2 linked regions of the Homo sapiens genome follow. The protein of the gene in region 2 interacts with the protein of the main gene of each other region in a pairwise test. Each region holds a gene or a part of one and is shown on either strand. Other genes may lie near its edges.

Region 1 (7,595 bases), on a different chromosome or scaffold from region 2:
TTTAGATTTGGCAACTAAGCACTAAACCAAACCAAACCAATGTTTGTTTTTTCTTGCTATAGTGGGGATATGCTGTCACAATATGACCTTAACTGAGGTCCCCCTTCTCCTCCCACTAATAAAACCATACTGTAATTATAGACAAAATATCAGGGAACAATAAAGAGCCTCAAGGGCCTTACAGATCGTTGTATTTTAGGCAATAACATCCATCTCCCATTAGGTTTTAAAGGGCCATTCAGTGATTTCACCAGCACCCTAGGTTGCCTTACTTTGGTCTAGCAGGGTGTTTTCAGAGAATTTGTATCCCATTGCAGTGTTCACCTTCTTTGCTTTTGCCTTTCCTACTGAGGTTAAATGTGAATTATTCCATTAGCAGCCCAGCATAAAATGGTAAGGTGAATGAACCACAATCTTTAAAATAGGTGAATACTGAAGTGTGACAAAAGTGGCAAGAACCCCAGGTGGCTTTGGAACTTTCTTTTTTAAAAACGCTTTATCTGAGGCAAGATTGATTTTGTTTCTCTGGCTCATCCCTCTTACTAGAAATCTTTGGTTTCAGAGAAAATCAACATAATGTTAATGGGTGCCCGGGTATAAGAGTATAGCATTGCACCTAAAATTATGCACTTGAGTTTTCTGAAAGGCCTAAGTTCAAGACCCCAATCTGCTACTCACTAGCTGTGTGGCCTTGAGCAAGTCACTTTTTGGCTCTGAGTTCTAGTTTCCTGATCTGAAAATGATGATAACAATAGTATCTATTTATAAGGTTGTTGGAGAATCAAAGAAAAGTAAAGCATTTAGTACAATGTTTGGCACATAGCTAGCATCCAATAAATGATGTCTTTTGCCACCACAATTATTCTTCTTACATACCTCATCTATTTCCTCTTCTGGTTCAGAAAATTCAGGAATCACTTTAATCTGAGTTTTGATAAAACATTTTTGAAGACCCACGAAGTAGATGCCAGTGTATCCCTATAAAACAGACAAAACAACAATAAAGCTTCCCAAAAGAGCCACTATTAGTAAGTTCCATGATCTGTTGGGGTCCCAGACTAGCAAAATTTGAATTCAAATGGAAAGCTAGAGGAGGCTAGCTTTCCATTTGAATTCAAATTTTAGATGGAGGCTATTTTTAACTTGACTCAACTGCTCTAATATTTTAAGTGGAAAGCCTTAGGAGGAAAACATCCAACTTACGTTTTTAAAGTCGTGCACTTCCAATGTTTCATCAGTGCCATTTCCGCTTCTGAATATTTCAGTTCTGGTCACAGGATCAATTTCCATGTAAATCTTCTTCTTCTCTCCATTGCTGTAGAAAGTGTGCTCCATGTCATAGGCCTGGGAGAACAGAGGAAAACAATCTCTAAGATACTCAGTGTGTCCCTAAAGTGAGGTGCTTTTTGGCGCTGGAGCTGATATGGGGATCCCTTCAGAGCTGGTATTTTGAATTCAAGCCAAGCTGCTGAGCTAATTACTAAGAATTCCAACAGTTTTCTTGGCAGCCTTGACTAAACAGCAAATGATAGTTTGCAAACCAGCCTATAAAGTATTTTCCCCTTGTGTTAAGCTGAGGGATCACCTAAAACCTATGCTGCTTCTTTAAGCTACCACTTCCCTTTCCAAGTGCTAAGTAATCACGACCCCCCCCTTACTGCCCCGCCCCTCACCCGTGAAATTCATTAGGGCTTAGAAAGAGATTTGAATACACTTAAAATGGTTAAGTGTTTTTTGTCTCCTTATTTATCCAGGGCTTTAATATTGCCACAACAGCCTTGAGTCTATTCCTTTTAGAATCTGAAGACTTTCTCCTTGCCAATATTAGAGCCCTACCCTGCTCTGTTTGCTTCCTTTTGCCCCTTAAACTCCAGGAAACATTTATTGCCTTCCCTTAGCCTTCTCTTTATACGGCAACCAACCCCACCCAGTTTATTCCTGGGTTCTGTTTCCCAAGCCATATTCAGTTGTTTTCAAGTTCTACGGATTCTTTTGTGTATATGGAATTAAGCCAACTGAGCCAAGTGTCCTGCATTAAGTAACATGGAGCCTCCCAAGAAGAAAGACTGCTCATCAGGTCTTTCTTGAGTGGCTAAAACAAAACCCCAGATTTTCTCCTGCACTCTAAAAGAGGCAATTGTATTTCTAAAGACCAAGAGGACCAGTCCCATATGGCACTGCAGTTTAGGAGTAAGCCCATAACTTATAGTTTTAGGACATATTTATAGGTAGAAGCAAATAAGCATAAAGGAATTTGTTATCTGTCACAAACCAGGCCAGACCTGATGATGCCTTTTGGAAGTCTATCTTATCTCTGTCATTAGGAGACCTTTGTTTATCGAGTTTCTCCATGTTCATTTTTCCTTATGAAAAAAATCTGGGAAACTAAAAGCCTGAAAAAGCAAGTCTTCTTCAGAGCCCACATTGCTTTCTAATGATACGGTTCCCAGTGGCAGCCTTATAGAGAACTTACACCAGGTTGGGTCATTTTTTAGTCTCTGCTGATGCCATTGACTGAATGTTAGTTTAACCTGGTGAAATATTCACCAACTCAACTAGAGAAAAACAAATTGGAACCATTTGTAGAAGCAAGTGTTACTTCAAGGGTGACAAGTCTAATGTAGCTGCTGAAGAGAAAAACAAGAGACAATGTCATTTACCTCTTGGTAGCCCTACAGTGCTTTGGACATGGTTGGAACCTAAGTATTTGTTGAATAAGTTGTCCCCACCAATGGCACATCCTTATCTTCCTAAAGAGACATTTTTGAGTATTGGCAAGGTCTTTTAAAAAAACCATTTTAAAAGTGAAAGAAAAACAATACTTAGAACTCTCTGGCAACTGCAGAGTTAACTCAGGAAGTCTGGCCTGGTTTGTGATAGGTAGCAAATTCCTTTAGGTTTGTTATTTGCTTCTAGCAATAAATATGTCCTCAGTTCCAGCTCTGCAGCCAGCTTGAGAAGAGAAACTTCTACCTGTGGCAACAAATTGAGCTCTCAGTCTGTCTGACCTAAGTAGAAAAGAGAGGCATCCACTTCAGATCCAGTCCTGTCAGCTCTCCCAACGGGGGAATTTTGTTAGAAATACTATCCATTTTTGAGACAAATGTTGATGCCACTAGCCATTGGGGGCTGCGGTGGGGTGTTTATTTCATCAGTAGCACCACTGATGGATTATTGTATGGAAAAATGAGGTTAGAGACTAGGGGATGCTGGAACACTGCCTACCTGGGCGAAAGAGAAAATACAGGCTGTATTTTCAATCACTGGTAGAAGACTATGGAACCTACTGGTGACATTTAGAATTTCAGTGTGCTTCTGTGGAATGAGTTTTCCTGCACTGTTGGCAATGCACTTTACTTGGACACCTTGCTAGATGAAAACTATTGGAAACTGCCAAGCTCAGCAGATCTTGATTATTTTCAACATTCCTGCAAAGAGTTTTTTTGGTAGGGGAGAAGGGGTCCATTCTGATTGTGTTCATTAACCAACTTGTTGGCTTTATGTTAGTAATGATAAGTTACTAGAGTGGGAACAGAATGACTTCGTTTATGTGTGAATCCTTGGTAGGGGGTAGGAGTGGGGAGCTATATATTCACCCAGACAGAATTCCACTATCAAAGGTGTCCTTTTGGAACAGACTGTTCTTCGTCTAGGAAGATGATGCTGGTGGCCCACTTTGGACTGTTTGGAGATGGGTATGAGCAAATCCAGACACACTGTCTCGCCTGGGTCCCTGTGGAGCACATTGCTTGGGTAATGGCTATGCAAGCTTCACTGGCCCGTATGAAGACTGAGCTCATGCCTTTGGCATCACAAGTACTTTGCTCTCTACTAAGCTTCCTGGCTCAGGGGTTGAAGGTCTTTCTGGAGATGAAAGAATAAATGGCTTTGTCCTCTCCAGGAGCAAGCTAAAGCAGAGACAGGATGACTGGCCTGAAGAGAGGTGTGAGTGGGCTACAAGTAGCTCATCTCAGCTGCCTCCAACTCAGCTTTATTCCAGGGAGGATAGAGCAAGGACAGAATATGATGAGGAGTACACCCCTGCCCAATTGGAAAATAGAGAGAGTTAATTTTTGGTGCTTCTAGCTTTCCTTTTCTGCTCTATTTTCATATTCTGTTCATTCTATACCCTCATAGCCCTTCCCCTTTCTCTTCCCATTTCTGTCCCTTTGTCTCCTGTCTAGACATCTAGGAATCTCGTGGTGCTTCAGGTACCTTATGACAAAGAAGAAATCAATCTGACCCATGATTTCACACTTAGATATTAGTGATGAATATTTGTCTGTTTAAAAATTTGAGTGCAATACTTCACTCAGAGGAATGAAGTACTAATAGTGGATTTTATTACTTTATTACTTTGCCATTACTTTCAATGGCTAAAACCACAGTTACTTTTGCACCAATCTAATAGGCACAGTGGCACGAGGAATGGGAGATATTTGGGGGCAAGGGCATCTTTCCAGCACCACTCAAATGGGCTCTTACTCCACCCACACATAAGGCTGGCCTTAACTATAAGAACCAGAACACTGGAATGGAACAAGGAAGCCAATGGAGTGGAATAGGAATCAGAAGTGAAATGAGACAGATATGTGGTTAAGTCCAGGCAGTGAGAAGTGTAAGAAGACCACACTGACAAAATATGTAGAGGACACAACCCATTTTTCTTCCCTGCCCAGGAATTCTGTCTTCAGTCCAGTTAAATCCTCCATTCAGGCAGCAAATGAGCCCTAACATCCCTCTTTCACAGTTTTCCTTGTTTTCTTGCCTCTGTGGCAGTCCCTGAGATCAGAAAAGAAAGCTATTTAGAAAAGGTAAAGCTATCTCAGACCTCAGTGTGATGGATCTGTTTTAGGGGCAAGAAGCTTTAGCCTGTCCTGACAGGGATTTGAGGACATTTGGCTTAGGTTTGTTTTTTGAAGCCTGTGATTAATCTAGCTGCTCTTCACTCCATCTTCATCCCTTACTGTCTGTTATGAGGTACACTCTCCAAAGGTGAAATACATGCTCAGAATAGCTGGCTAGCAGGTGTTAGGCTGGAAGGAAGGGAAGAGAATGCACTGTACCATATTATTATTAACCTAACTTGGGGGAATTAAAGGGCCTCTGGGTATTTCTTTACCAACACAGAGCAGACAGATTGTTCCTTATGCAAAGTTAGAGTTCTGCATCTTCAATCACCATTTGGCAATATGCAAAATATTGGCATAAGCAGCACAGACATTCTTTTTCAACAAGAAAAAGCTACTTCTTTTATCTACAGACTTGAGCTGACCAGTAAGTTTTTCTCCTACCCATTATCCCCATCCCTGATTCTTAAATGCAGCTGAAGAATAGTGGAAAGAATCTTCAGACTAGCCTCTAGTTCTAACCTTAACCCCACCACTTACAAGCTGTGTGATTTTGGGCAAATCACTGAGTGTCTCTAGGGACTCAGTTCCTATTTTAATCCTTTACCCCTTTTCATCTGTAATGTTAGATAGTTAGCAAAGTCTGCTGAGATTTGCTCAGATCAACCTGTCAGGTTGATCACTGGACTACGCCTACTGCCACTATCTGTTGATCATCCAGGCTACTTCCTCCACAGCCCCAATTCCACTCTCAACCACTCCAGAACAGCTGTCTTTGAAGGCCCAGGCTCTTCATCCTGGTGTCATATAAGTTGTTCAGCAAATGCTGCCTTAGGAGAATGAAGAGACTGACTAAGAAGAACATGCCCATCACAGCCACAGCCTGGCTCCACATAATTGCTGGGAGCTGCCCTTGAGTAGCCCAGAATAAGAGCTGGCCCAGTGAGAGTTGTACAAGGGTGGACCTGGGTCTCACAATGCTTTAAGAGGAAAATGAAGAGAGGTCTTTTTTTTTTTTTTTTTTTTGAAAATGCCAACATGGCACCATCTGGTAAAGCTCAGTCTCCCTGCCAAAAATATTCCGGCTACTCCTTCAACTTTTTCCTTGAGGGTATATTAATGTTTCTCTAGACCCACATTTCACCCACCGGACTGTGGTGTAGGAAAGCCCAGGGGACCTGGAGAAAAAAGTTGTCTTCCTTGTGTGCCTAGAGAGGAGCGAAAAAAGTTAATATTGGGCTAATGCCCAATTGTGCGTGCCAAGAAATAGGCACGCACAAAATGTTGCAATCAGACTCGTCAAGAAAGTGCTTCTTCTGAGCAAAGGATTTTCAACCTAGAATGATAGTGGACTCACAACGCTGGGGGAGACTGTTTTAGTGATCACCTGCAACTGAGGTGTGGCAGGAGGGCAGAAAAGTGCCCGCTTATCCCTACCACTCCTCATTGCTCTGGTAATATATAGAAGTTGAAGGAACATCCTCACGAATCTATTGATTACTGTGGTCCTGATGGCTTTCAAACAACCCTAAAGTCACCAGGCAGCTCCTATGTAAGGCAGTAAGGACACTCTTTCATTTATTAAATGTATGATTCTTCTGCCTCGCTCCACAAAGGATTGGCAGGGATGGGCTACAAGGTCTGTGCTAAGTTTCTAAACTGTTGGTTTAAGGGCTAGGATTTTTCTGATTTGTTTGCTTCATGTTGGATTAATTAGCTGAGGAGTTGGCTTCTGACTGTTTCCAGTAAAATGTGTAATACAGGGGGCTTTAAGCAAGAATGTTTCTTTGGTGATTCTGCTTCAATGATCCCAGGGCAGTCACTGCCTAGAAGGGGAGCCTCATTACGATGCTTTCTCAAAATTGCTGGGACTGAATAGGTCTCTTCTGCTTGTTTAAGAAAGCTGAATTCAGAGCTGGATGGACCTGGCTTTCATTTAGCTCAGGTGGCTCCTGTATGTGGCTGTGGGTCAGGGGCCTGGGACCTGTAAGAAAATGCAGCAGCTCACCCAGAGTTAGTCGTCCTTGTTTCACTTTATTTTGATTTCATTCTCTCTCTGGTCTGTGTGTGTGTGTGTGTGTGTCTGTGTGTGTGTGAGTCTGTGCGTGTGCACACCTGTGTGCACGCAGACCTGAGGTATGTGAGGGGAGGAGGTCAAGCATGGCTTGTTCTCAATTTGGATACAGGAATCTGGATCTTTTGTACACACCAAAGCGGGAGTGAGGAGAAGGACTTATTGGCATGGAAATGTCAACACCAGATGTGGGATGTTAAATAAATACTGTTTATTATACACAGATGTTGAAAGACAAAATAAAAAGGAGGCGTGGTGGAGGCTAGGAGAGCAAACACTAAGAGCTTGGAGGAAATCCCAGGACTGCAAACAAATCACTGCCACCAATAAGCACAGTTGCATGCACAGCTCTCTCTACCAAGGGCCACAGAGTCCCAACAAGTCTCATAGATTTGTTAAGGAAAGCCCAAAGAGCCTGGATTTTAATCTGCTGTTGTTTCTTGCTAGGCCATACCATTAAGGGGAGAGTCTTTAATTTATGTAAGATGCCTGTGTCCCTTTCCTATGCAACTCTTCCAAGACTAATCTGACTGCTAGTCTCTTCCCAGAATTCTTAAGTCTGCTCTAAGGCAGGCTTGTTGATAGGCGTACCCATTGGAAACATAGATGGTCTCTTGAGATCTTTGTCTGGGACCTGAAGGTAGTAGTGGACTAAGTAAAGCATCCTCATT
Region 2 (7,600 bases):
CTTGCTGTGTCGCCCAAGCTGGAGTGCAGTGGCACGATCTCGGCTCACTGCAACCTCCACCTCCCGGGTTCACGCCATTCTCCTGCCTCAGCCTCCTGAGTAGCTGGGATTACAGGTGCCTGCCACTATGCCCGGCTAATTTTTGTATTTTTAGTAGAGGCGGTTTTGCCATGTTGGTCAGGCTGGTCTCAAACTCCTGACCTCGTGATCTGCCCGCCTTGGCCTCCCAAAGTGCTGGGATTACAGGGTTTTTTTTTGTTTTTTTTTTTTTTTCAGATGAGGCCTCGCTCTGTTGCTCAGGCTGGAGTGCAGTGGCATGATCTTGGCTCACTGAAGCCTCCACCTCCTGGGTTCAAACAATTCTCCTGCCTCAGCCTCCCAAGTAGCTAGGATTACTGGTGTCTGCCACCACGCCCAGATAATTTTTCTATTTTTAGTAGAGACAGGGTTTCGCCATGTTGGCCAGGCTGGTCTTGAACTCCTAACCTCAGGTGATCCGCCTGTCTTGGCCTCCCCAAAGTGCTGGGATTACAGGCATAAACCACCACGCCCAGCCTGATTTCTAATTCTGGTATAGTGGGGTGGCGGAGAGGGTTCGGCTTGGTGGTGACTCCCAGGTTGACACCAGGACCTTGGGAGGAGGTTGAGGGAGCTCCATGTCAGATGGACTCAGATCACAAACACAGTAGGCCCCAGGTCTGCCTGAGGTTCTGAAGTATCCCAGAACAGCGGACAATAGGTTTTTCATCTCTACTAGAAGAAAAACAAGCAAATCTGAACTGCCTCAGCAAGGGAGGTGCTTAAGAAAAATAACATTTTCAAATCAATTGCAGCCAGGGCCACATGCTTGTTCCCTCCTTCCTGGGAGGACTTGCAGAGCTACCAGATCCTTCCTGTCTTGGAGAGGGGGCCATGCTTTCTGGAAGCAGTGATGCTTAAGGAAGCCCACCAGGTGGCCTCAAGTGACATCTGCTGTGCCCACAGCTGCTGCTTTTTTCTTTCTTTCTTTCTTTTCTTTTTTTTTTTCTTTTTTTTTTTTTTTTTGATAGAGATGGGGTTTCACCATGTTGCCCAGGCTGGTCTTGAACTCCTGAGCTCAAGTAATCTGCCTGCCTTGGCCTCCCAAAGTGCTGGGATTACAGGCATGAGCCACCACACCCGGTCCAGGAGCTTCTAAATCAGGAAAAAATCCTTGGACGTAAGGAGCTGGTACCTCTGAGGCTCAGGCTTTCTATGGAAGAACTAATAGGAAGAAATTAAGGGAGATCAAAACAGGGGAGACAAAGGGAGCAGCCCCCAGGGGCAATGGCTTGTGAAGCTAGGGGAGGAAGGGGGGCTTACGTGTGCTTGGGCTTCAGCCTCTGGTCCCCATAGGGAATGAGAGCCACCAACTGCTTCTCCAGCTCTAGAGAGAGAGAAGGTGAGAGGGAGGGCCAAGATGCAACTGTGACAAATATTTACTGTGCCAGCTTCCCAGAAGCACGCCTCCACCCACACCATAGAGCAATGTTAGAAACATGCCACATCTGCCCCAGAGCAGGACTGGAAGCACTGGACTCTGCTACCAAAGTTGGCAGCTCAGCTTTGCCATCTCTAGAATGGAAGTGAGATTTCCACTAATAGGTATGAAGAATCTCTGAAAGTCACCAGCAAATCAGAGATGCCCAGCATCTTTGGAAAGTTCATTTGTAACTTCCTGAACTGAATGAATCCTAGGACACACAGTGTTGCTCAGAAGCACAGTGGCTAGAATCCTTCTTTCCCACAAGGGGCTGGAGAATACAACCAGGGAAGGAGGGCAGGTTTTTGCAGGGAACCCAAGGATAGTTAAGTATCTCCCTGGCCAGCCTGAGACTGGGAGGTCAAGAGCTGGGAGCAGATCTAACCCCATCCAAGGAGACTCAGAGGGGCTGCCCCAGGCCAACAGGCTAAGAACTTTCCCTGGATTCCAGGCTATTTCCAGAGCCTTGGGCCACTCACCTTGGGGAATCTTGCCACTGCCCTGGCAGGTGGGACAAGTCACGAAGCTGGCATCAGCAGTTCCTTCACAAGGCACACAGGAACAAAAAGACTTGCTGCTACCGGTGCTGGAGTAGTTGACAGCCTTGCTGCCAATGGCTGGTTTGGAGGACAGGATTGACTTGTTCTCATCCTCCCGCCAAGAGCCCAGCTGGGAAAACGTCTTACCCATTCTTCAGGGGCGGGGGTTTCACTAATGAGAAAAGACCAAAGTTCAGTGCTAAGCTTGTTAGCACTGACGCCAGATGTAATTTTGGTTTGAAGTTCTCAAGACTGGCAAGGAGCTTCACCACAGTTTAAGCAAGCTCAAGCCTAAGGAAGATAGGATGTGAAAAACTGGGTGGTCACATGGGACTCTCAGAAGTCTCAATGCATTTCGACTCCTTTCATTATTTTAAAAGAGACCAATCTGCCTACAAAAGGGAAAACAAAAGAAAAGCAGAAGTTACTTCACTTTAAGGAACTTCCATAAGTGATTGTCAGAGCATTTAATTTTTCTCTGGAAAAGTTGCTGAGCTGTCATTCAGTTTAAGGGAAGGAAGTTGGATAGGGCAGAAAAGAGATTCTTTGAATCAAGGAGAGAGGAGGCCAGACTGGTCACAGGTGTGGTTAAGACCCCTATCTAAAGAAGCCCTGGGAGAAAGCAGACACCTCACTGCTTTCTGAGGCGGGGTAAGAAAGCCTGAGGAGGGTCATAGTGATACCAGGGTCTGTCTTTCACTAGGAAAACTCAAGGCTAAATCTGGACTCTGTGTGACAGAACGAGGCCGGCAAGTGAGCCACACAGATCTTTCTGGGCTAAAATATAGGGATGCTCACCTTGTTCAGGTCTGGGATCCCAGGCTCCTCAGCCGCACGAGGGCGAGACTTCTGGAGTGCGTCTTTGGGGAGAAGGGCCTCTAAGGGCAGAGTGGGCTGGGCTGGGCTGAGCTGAGCTGGGCGGTGGTGGGGAGAAGCACCGCCTGGGGCCGGCAACCGGCCGGAGTCCTAGGGGAACGAATGTGCCGCACTGGAGAGTGGGGATAGTAAGGACGCTGACCTCCCCGAAGGGCCAAGCCGATTCCTGGGCTACATGGGGGCTCTGCCATGGGCCGACCGGGTGGAAGCGGACGGAGAAGGTGTGACTTCATTAAGGGAGGATTTCAAGTCCCACCACACACCCCTAGAGGCCGTTAGTCAAGCTTGGTACCCGTGCGGGGGGCGCCTGTGTGTTGGGCGAGGAGGCGGCAACAGGAGGTGTCTTGACCTCCGAAAGGTAAAGTAGGTATAAAGGGTCTAGGGAGGGCCTTACCCGCGGACGACTGCAGCGACAGAAACGGAAGAGAGTGGAATCGAAAATGCGGGAGCGAACACTCCCCTCAAGCTTTGACTCAGTGCCCAGGGAAGTCCCGCCCCAGCCCCTAAGGGCCCACCCCCCCGTCCCCCGGTCCGCCCCTTCGCCACGCAGCAGCCTGAGACGCTGCCAGCTCTTCAAACGTTACCCGAGGGCCCGGACGCTGCTTCCGCAAGGACTAGCCAGTCCGGGTAGGAATTTCCAAGAACATTTATTTCACCATTCTTTAGGTGGTTATGTACAAGTACATACATAACCAGGAGAGCAACCCGGGCCCTCCTGGCCCTCGATTATAAAACTCCGATGGTCAAGACAGGTCCCACCCATCAACCCAATTACACCCTGCCGCTCCACCTTCTACCCGGAAGCCCCGATTAAAACGTTTTAAATAATGAACGGCCTGGCTGGCTTGCAGTTTGAATCCTGGTTTATTTAAGTAGCATTCAGGAGTTATACTGTAAATAAACATCATTATGGCTAATGACTAATTAAAATCACCATTCATTACAAATACCAACCAGGTTAGATAATACTATTAACTATCTTTTCCCCTTCGGTCTGGGGTTCATATTCTTCCTTTTCTGGAAGTCATTTTCATGGATAAAATATTTAGCATTTTTTGTTACCTCTTCCTTCACCAACTGTACTCAACACACTTCTGTAAACAGAGTGAGAACCTGGGTTCATGGACAAGCTCTTTTCCACTTATCTTCGGGTTAAACCAAAACTTTTTCAGCAACTTTGCCCCTGTCCAAGTTTTGCAGAACACCAGCTGCCTCTTCCTGTTCTAGGCATTCTAGGGCTAGATACCTGTGAACGGACTTCAAGCATTAAAGAAGTCATCAGCATTTCCTATACCTCACACACACTCATTTGCCCACCCTGAACTTCACTGACATTAATTTAGGAGCCTGCCTTTTGCCTTTCACATGTTTCTATTTCCCCCACTGTACTGTAAAATAAGATCTGCCCTGACATTAAGAAAAAAGGCAACTGTTAAATTTACTTTTCCCTTTAAATAACGGGATTTTTTCCTTTTCTATAAGATTAGCAAAATATTTCACAATACCTATATTTTTTCCCTTAAATAAAAATGTATGCAAAATTACTATAATAGACATTGCTCAATAGGTGCTGGTAGGTTTATCAGCACACTCTTCCTCCTTTCATTGAAATGCGGAGATTCCCTTGAAGTTGGATACTCTTGAATGCACCATGGAGTCTTTAGAAAGCAACGGTGCCAATTATTAAGTATTGCAGGAAAATTACTTTCTCCTTGAGAGAGGAAGAGTAACAACATTTCTATCATGCTCTGGGTGTTATTTCAATGCCAAATAACTATGAAGCTTGAGGTGGATTACAGAAATTATGAGAATAAGAATTATGAGAATAATTCTTAAAAACAACTTCCGAGGTTAATGTCTTTCAAAACCTGAAAATTAACAGATATCCCCATAAAAAATCCACATTAGCCAAAGAAAAATACTCAGTTTCAATAAAAGCAGAAAGAAAAATGGTTCTATATGAAGTTGAAGTTACACTTGTCAATGCACTAAAATAGTTTTATCCAAATCAACTGAAAAACTGTCTTCATACTATTCATCCAATGTCTAAAGTGAAAATTTAAGTTCTGGTCTTTAGTTTGCTCCCCAAAATACTGTAGCAGGTATTGTCTTGGTAACTCAACGATGGGCTCTATACAGATTCATCAGATTAAAAATAAGCAAGGGCTTCTATCCCATACCCCAATGACAGAATAAAGATCATCTCTGAGCAGCAGGCAGTTATTTAATACAAGGTCACTCCTCAATAGCGTTGGCTGTACCAGTCGTTGTTGTTTAACTGAAGAAGTTCTGTCACAACCTGCAGGATATTGTAATTGTGTTTCTTCAGCAGCCGTAGGTTCAGCTGCCTGTCACAGAATCCCATTTCAAAGAGATGGGCCATCAGGGCTGCTGTCTGATCTTCAGAAATTATTGGCTGTGTAGAGACAAGCAAAGCAAAAAAAAAAAAAAAAATTCTGTATAATTTAAATGTTTATTTTATACATTTGTATCATCTTGCAAGCATACTAGTCTTTCCAGATTTATTCAAAGTACTAGGTAATTAGATTCAAGGCTATGGCACTCCTGTGTACTTGATACCAACGGTTCGGACTGGGAAGGCCCTATTTTAGATTAGTTATCTGTGTACTTGAAGGAGGAGAAAAGGGAAACCGGGGAGCTAATGAACTGTACTTAGAACCAGGAGAATGCTTCACTCGGGGCTTTCAGGAAGAAGCATTTTTTGGCCAGATGAAGGAATGACAGCAAGCCCCAGAGACCCTGTGAACATAAGTGTAATTGTGATGATGGGGGAAGTATGAGCAAGATAAAAGTGTTACTGAAAGATGCTATGGGAAATTTTGTCAGATATGCAGAGGAGCTGGACAAAAAAAACAGCTTGGGAAATTACAACCTGGGAAGGCTTCTTGATTTTTTCTCCTCCAAAAGAATAGGTAAGAGGGGCTGGGTGCGGTGGCTCACACCTGTAATCCCAGCACTTTGGGAGGCTGAGGCGGGCGGATCATGAGGTCAGGAGATTGAGACCATCCTGGCTAACACAGTGAAACCCCATCTCTACTAAAAATACAAAAAATTAGCCAGGCGTGGTGGCAGGCGCCTGTAGTCCCAGCTACTCGGGAGGCTGAGGCAGGACAACGGCGTGAACCCAGGAGGTGGAGCTTGCAGTGAGCCGAGATCGCGCCATTGCACTCCAGCCTGGGTGACAGAGCGAGACTCCATCTCAAAAAAAAAAAAACAAGAATAGGTAAGAGGAAGTTAACATTCATTCATTCAAGCCCTGTGGTGGAAGCATTACCTTCCTAAATCCTTAAACGCTTGTTTTGTTGTTGTTGTTGTTTTGTTTGTTTTTTGAGACAGGGTGTCACTCTGTTCCCCAGGCTGGTGTGCAGTGGTGTGAACACAGCTCATTGCAGCCTCAACCTCCTGGGCTCAAGTGATCCTCCTGCCTCAGCCTTCCAAATAGCTGGGACCACTGGTCTGCGCTACCACGCCCGGCAAATTTTTAAATTTTTTACTAGAGATGAGGTTTCCCTATGTTGCCCAGGCTGGTCTTGAACTTCTGGGCCCAAGTGATCCTTGAACTTTGGTCTCCCAAAATGCTGGGATTATAGATGTGAGCCACCTCGCCTGGCCTCTGGTTCTGTTATTATCCCAATTTCACAGACTGGGGATACTGAAACTGTGCAGCAGAAAGATTATTAACTTGGGAGGCAGATAGGCTTAGACTCAAACCCTAATCTTCCATTTACTTACCAACTGTGCTATCAATTCCTTTATGAACTGAAGATATATCATACCTCCTACTTTGCAGGGTTGTTGAAAAAGTATGTAAAGATGAGAACAGTATGCAAACATGTTAAGCATTTCCCTCCAAACCTGATTCCACTGTTCCATTCTACCTTCTTATTTCAGAATAGATTATCCATCCTCCTTTGCAGGTTAATGGAATGTACCTTGCATTGTATCTTATTACCTCTCACCACTTCAGAAATCTTTCTCCATCTCCAATCTGTCTTCTCATCTTTATCATTAACCTCTTTCACTGCTGGCTTGCCCATCTCTAAAGTCTCACCCAACTTTAAAAATGCTTCCTCTTGTCTTATGTATCCTAGCTTCTGCCTGTTGTAGCCTGTCTATTTGAAAGTGTGGCATACTTCTACTCTCAAATTCCTCACCACCAGTTCATATCTCTCTGTAGCATCTAACACCGTTGACCATGTCCCCCTTATTAAAACACCCTTCCTTAAGTTCCAGCATAGAACTCTCTCTCTTCATTTTCCTCCTAGTTCCCAGCTTTCTTTCAGAGTATTCCTTTCCCTGATCCTTAAAGGTTGCTTCTTGCTTTCCCCATTATTCCTGGATCATCTCATTCCATCAGATGGCTTCTGCTATAATCTGTAGGCAAGTGACTCTCAAGCATGTATCACCAGGCCAAATCCCTCCCCTGTGATCTGGATGGATACCGTTGGCTTGCCATTATCTGTGGGTTCCTCATCTATGGATCAGTCACCAAAGGACTGAAAATATTTGGGGAGAAAAAAAGGAACACGTACAAACTTTTTTGTCATTATTCCCGAATACCGTATAACAACTATTCAGATAGCATTTACATTGTATTGGGTATTGTAAGTAATGTAGAGATGAAGTATATGAGATGGGCTGGGTGCAGCGGCTCAAGTTTCTC

Evidence for each region.
Region 1: the proteins of TMEM106A (region 2) and TNMD interact in binary tests that used the Homo sapiens proteins (3 or more experiments, as listed by UniProt).

The regions. Positions count from the first base shown.
Region 1 is NC_000023.11:100,587,644-100,595,238, reverse strand, and holds part of TNMD (tenomodulin), read right to left. Parts: intron 1,345-7,595; coding exon 1,204-1,344; intron 979-1,203; coding exon 877-978; intron 1-876. UniProt on the Homo sapiens protein: May be an angiogenesis inhibitor.
Region 2 is NC_000017.11:43,207,633-43,215,232, reverse strand, and holds the start of TMEM106A (transmembrane protein 106A), read right to left. Parts: upstream 3,359-7,600; 5' UTR 3,311-3,358; intron 3,029-3,310; exon of another isoform or gene 3,007-3,028; 5' UTR 2,839-3,006; intron 2,213-2,838; 5' UTR 2,192-2,212; coding exon 1,981-2,191; intron 1,406-1,980; coding exon 1,342-1,405; intron 1-1,341. Other genes in the region: NBR1 (next to BRCA1 gene 1 protein), read right to left, coding at 5,159-5,332. UniProt on the Homo sapiens protein: Activates macrophages and polarizes them into M1-like macrophages through the activation of the MAPK and NF-kappaB signaling pathway.